2 separate regions of the Homo sapiens genome follow, and region 2 is linked to region 1. The links come from fine-mapping of genetic effects on gene expression. A gene starts in region 1. The other region holds a variant in brackets. All regions are shown on one strand. Distances are from middle to middle.

Region 1 (2,818 bases):
AATTGCTGTTTGTGCAAATAAACTGTTTGTATTAATCGGTTCTGGCATTACTATAAATGCCTCAGACTGGGTAATTTATAAGAAAGAGGATTAACTGGCTCATGGTTCCACAGGCTGTACAGAAAGCATAACACCAGCATCTGCTTCTGGGGGGGCCCCACCCAGGAAGCTTAAAATCCTGGTGCAAGGTGAAGCAGGAGCTTGAAAAGAAGGCAAGGGGGTTGCTATACACTTTTAAATAAGAACTTCAGGGAACTCAGTCACTATCGAGAGGTCAATACCAAGAGGAATGGTGCTAAACTATTCATGAGAAATTCACGCCCATAATCCAAACACTTTCCACCAGGCCCCACCTCCAACATGGGGTATTACATTTAAATAGGAGAGTTGGGCTGGAAAACACTTCGAAACTATATCCTAAAGATGCCTCAATTTAGGCTACGACAGTGGCTCATGCATGTAATCCCGGCACTTTAGGAGGCCCGAGGGGGGCGGATCACCTGAGCTCCGGAGTTCGAGACCAGGCTGAGCAACATTGCAAAAACCCGTCTCTACCAAACAAACAAAAAACAAAACCACAAAACCAGGCGAGGTGGCGGCGCATGTCTCCCTAGTCCTAGCTACTTGGGGAGCTGGGGTGGGAGGATCATCTGAGCCCAGGAGGTGGAGGCTGCAGTGAGCCGAAATCTTGCCACTGCACTTTAGCCTGGGCACAGAGTGAGACACTGTCTCCAAAATAAATAAATAAAATAAGCCACAATTTTTAAAAGGAGAAAGGAGGGACTGGGGACCCCAAGGCCCACTGCTTCTTCCACGGAGGAACTCCAGACCCTGAATGAGGATTCTCGTCTTATGACGTCCCCGCACAATCTGGAGGAGACTCGGGATTGCGACACAGAGCTGCCCAAAAAGTCTCTGGGCTGGAAAGAAATTCGCGTTTATGGACAAAACAAGACGCTCGGGTTTTGGCTGCAGGCTCAGCTCCTAATCTGCGACGGAGGGAAGTGAGGACTGAACTGTGCCCACGGGGACTCGGAGCTGCTGCAGAGCTGACCGCGAGGCCAAGATCCCACCGCAGCCAGTTCCGACCGGATTCAAACAGCCTCTTCCCCCTTCTCGGGACACCCACTCCGCGCACTCACCATTTCCCAGCCTCCGGATGTTCCGCCTTCTTCCCTATGGATCTCCCAGTACCTGCAGGTCACAGGATAACAGGGGCTATGGTGGAGTCACCGAGGAGCTAATGGAGCGGAAGAGATGGAATAGTACAGACGGGTACTGGACTCAGAGCCTAGAAGCTAGGAGACGAAGGCCTTGCCATATTGAAGAGCCCGCCTCTTCCTCTCTAGCTGCGCACCTGATTGGGCAGTTTTCACGCTAGCACCACTGATTGGCTGGGGTTCTCCGCCCCACACATTTAGACCCTGATCGACAGGAGATGTAATGAGACACTGGGCTGAATGAGGAAAGAGTGACAGGTTTTTGCCTGCAGCATGTTCAGGCAGCGATTTCTCCTTGTGTTGGGGGCCTGGCCCTGCCTGAGGGACATTTGTATTTAACGTTGTATATAAGATTATATCACTTTCTGATTATATTTACGTGTGTGTATATCAATTTCTGAATTATAGTTATGTGTATGCTGCAGGCCCTGTCTCAGCATCCTGTCTTTCCCTTTAGTTGCAGGAGATCAAAGTCCTCCAGGAGATGCAGCTGCACCAGCTGGCTGCAGACAATTATCACCTTCAGTCTGTGAAGCAATTTTGGGTCTGCTTCCAATTAATGGAGTGTCTCAGTGAGACTGAGAGGTGAGGGCCTAGCAGATTGGTTAGTGCCACTCACCCAGACCTCCCAAAACACCCTGTTTCTTTCCCACCAAAGCTGAGCCTGCCTGAGGACCTAAACAAGCATGGAGAACGAAGATGGGACCCTAGTCAGGGATAGTGCTGGGCTGTGGGGTAAAGTCAGCTGGGTCAGTGCCTCCAGGTGTGGGAAGGAGCCGGCCTCTTCTCTAGGGCCCTGGGCAAGTCACTGCCCTCTTTGGGCCTCTGTTTTCTTATCCAAAAAATGTAGGGATGATGAGACTGAGAGGGGCTAATGATGAGCTTCAAAGGAGAAAAGAACTTTGAGAGTGCTTGTGCCTGGCTCTTCCTGAGATGATGAGAACAATGGTGACAGCTACATATAACTGAGTCCTCACAAGGCCCAGTGAGGTAGGTGGTTCCCATCACACTTTCAAGTTGAGAAAACAGTCTCAGGGAGGCCTGGCTGCATGCCCAAGGTTCCACATACAGGGAGTGTTGGAGCAGGGAGTCAATCTAGAATCAGAACTTACTGGAGATGACAGGAGCATTGGACCAGCTTACTCACACCAGTTATCCAGGATACCAGGTCAGTGTAACTGGGCATAACTGGGTGAAGGGAGCATAGTATCACTGACCTTTTCTTTGACTCTGGCAGATGAAGACATCCACGTTGGCCACCCTGGAGACGAAACCACAGAGAGGCCAGATGAGGCTAAAGCAGCAAAAAGGCAGTGTCCCTGTGATGGGGAGGAGCTCCAGGGAGTCAGAGGGAAGAGCTCCTCCCTCACAGCCGGAGGCCTCCACATCAAAAGAGCAAGGGGCCTTTCTCCCGTAGCCCTTCCCTCCTGTGGCAACAGTCCCTGAAATGCCTCTATAAGACAAATCTGAGTAAAAGCCTGGAAGAGCTGGATTTGGGAAATAGTGGGGGCAGGGACCACATAACATTGTGACTTGTAAAAATCTCACCACAGAGTTAACATGGGAACATGGGGGTTCATGTTTTTGGAGGCCAGCTA
Region 2 (2,818 bases), 980 kb after region 1:
AATCATGTCATCTGCAAACAGGGACAATTTGACTTCCTCTTTTCCTAATTGAATACCCTTTATTTCCTTCTCCTGCCTAATTGCCCTGGCCAGAACTTCTAACACTATGTTGAATAAGAGTAGTGAGAGAGGGCATCCCTGTCTTGTGCCAGTTTTCAAAGGGAATGCTTCCAGTTTTTGCCCACTCAGTATGATTTGGCTGTGGGTTTGTCGTAGATAGCTCTTATTATTTTGAAATACGTCCCATCAATACCTAATTTATTGAGAGTTTTTAGCATGAAGGGTTGTTGAATTTTGTCAAAGGCCTTTTCTGCATCTATTGAGATAATCATGTGGTTTTTGTCTTTGGTTCTGTTTATATGCTGGATTACATTTATTGATTCGCGTATATTGAACCAGCCTTGCATCCCGGGGATGAAGCCCACTTGATCATGGTGGATAAGCTTTTTGATGTGCTGCTGGATTCAGTTTGCCAGTATTTTATTGAGGATTTTTGCATCAATGTTCATCAAGGATATTGGTCTAAAATTCTCTTTTTTGGTTGTGTCTCTGCCTGGCTTTGGTATCAGGATGATGATGGCCTCATAAAATGAGTTAGGGAGGATTCCCTCTTTTTCTATTGGTTGGAATAGTTTCAGAAGGAATGGTACCAGTTCCTGCTTGTACCTCTGGTAGAATTCGGCTGTGAATCCATCTGGTCCTGGGCTCTTTTGTGTTGGTAAGCTATTGATTATTGTGACAATTTCAGATCCTGTTATTGGTCTATTCAGAGATTCAACTTCTTCCTGGTTTAGTCTTGGGAGAGTGTATGTGTCGAGGAATTTATCCATTTCTTCTAGATTTTCTAGTTTATTTGCATAGAGGTGTTTGTAGTATTCTCTGATGGTAGTTTGTATTTCTGTGGGACGGTGGTGATATCCTCTTTATCATTTTTTATTGCATCTATTTGATTCCTCTCTCTTTTTTTCTTTATTAGTCTTGCTAGTGGTCTATCAATTTTGTTGATCCTTTCAAAAAACCAGCTCCTGGATTCATTAATTTTTTGAAGGGTTTTTTGTGTCTCTATTTCCTTCAGTTCTGCTCTGATTTTAGTTATTTCTTGCCTTCTGCTAGCTTTTGAATGTGTTTGCTCTTGCTTTTCTAGTTCTTTTAATTGTGATGTTAGGTTGTCAATTTTGGATCTTTCCTGCTTTCTCTTGTGGGCATTTAGTGCTATAAATTTCCTCTATACACTGCTTTGAATGCGTCCCAGAGATTCTGGTATGTTGTGTCTTTGTTCTCCTTGGTTTCAAAGAACATCTTTATTTCTGCCTTCATTTCGTTGTGTATCCAGTAGTCATTCAGGAGCAGGTTGTTCAGTTTCCATGTAGTTGAGCGGTTTTGAGTGAGATTCTTAATCCTGAGTTCTAGTTTGATTGCACTGTGGTCTGAGAGATAGTTTGTTATAATTTCTGTTCTTTTACATTTGCTGAGGAGAGCTTTACTTCCAAGTATGTGGTCAGTTTTGGAATAGGTGTGGTGTGGTGCTGAAAAAAATGTATATTCTGTTGATTTGTGGTGGAGAGTTCTGTAGATGTCTGTTAGGTCCGCTTGGTGCAGAGCTGAGTTCAATTCCTGG[G/T]TATCCTTGTTGAATTTCTGTCTCGTTGATGTGTCTAATGTTGATAGTGGGGTGTTAAAGTCTCCCATTATTAATGTGTGGGAGTCTAAGTCTCTTTGTAGGTCTCTCAGGACTTGCTTTATGAATCTGGGTGCTCCTGTATTGGGTGCATATATATTTAGGATAGTTAGCTCTTCTTGTTGAATTGATCCCTTTACCATTATGTAATGGCCTTCTTTGTCTCTTGATCTTTGTTGGTTTAAAGTCTGTTTTATCAGAGACTAGGATTGCAACCCCTGCCTTTTTTCGTTTTCCATTTGCTTGGTAGATCTTCCTCCATCCTTTTATCTTGAGCCTATGTGTGTCTCTGCACGTGAGATGGGTTTCCTGAATACAGCACACTGATGGGTCTTGAATCTTTATCCAATTTGCCAGTCTGTGTCTTTTAATTGGAGCATTTAGTCCATTTACATTTAAAGTTAATATTTTTATGTGTGAATTTGATCCTGTCATTATGATGTTAGCTGGTTATTTTGCTCGTTAGTTGATGCAGTTTCTTCTTAGTCTTGATGGTCTTTACATTTTGGCATGATTTTGCAGCGGCTGGTACCAGTTGTTCCTTTCCATGTTTAGCACTTCCTTCAGGAGCTCTTTTAGGGCAGGCCTGGTGGTGACAAAATCTCTCAGCATTGGCTTGTCTGTAAAGTATTTTATTTCTCCTTCACTTATGAAGCTTAGTTTGACTGGATATGAAATTCTGGGTTGAAAATTCTTTTCTTTAAGAATGTTGAATATTGGCCCCCACTCTCTTCTGGCTTGTAGAGTTTCTGCTGAGAGATCTGCTGTTAGTCTGATGGGCTTCCCTTTGTGGGTAACCCGACCTTTCTCTCTGGCTGCCCTTAACATTTTTTCCTTCATTTTAACTTTGATGAATCTGACAATTATGTGTCTTGGAGTTGCTCTTCTCGAGGAGTATCTTTGTGGCATTCTCTGTATTTCCTGAATCTGAATGTTGGCCTGCCTTGCTAGATTGGGGAAGTTCTCCTGGATAATATCCTGCAGAGTGTTTTCCAACTTGGTTCCATTCTCCCCGTCACTTTCAGGTACACCAGTCAGACGTAGATTTGGTCTTTTCACATAGTCCCATATTTCTTGGAGGCTTTGTTCATTTCTTTTTATTCTTTTTTGTCTAAACTTCCCTTCTCACTTCATTTCATTCAT

What was found.
Region 2: its variant is fine-mapped to the expression of ZNF727 in whole blood (TOPMed, PIP above 0.99).

Annotation. Positions count from the first base shown.
Region 1 is chr7:64,043,949-64,046,766 of GRCh38, reverse strand. It overlaps ZNF727 (zinc finger protein 727), which reads right to left and starts at 1,333. Exons shown (of 4, transcript NM_001159522.3): 1 at 1,143-1,333. The coding sequence starts at 1,145.
Region 2 is chr7:63,061,502-63,064,319 of GRCh38, reverse strand. No RefSeq gene overlaps it. Among named protein-coding and RNA genes, the nearest start is that of LINC03075, 290 kb to the left of the region's middle. The variant G/T (reference allele first, on the strand shown) is at 1,619.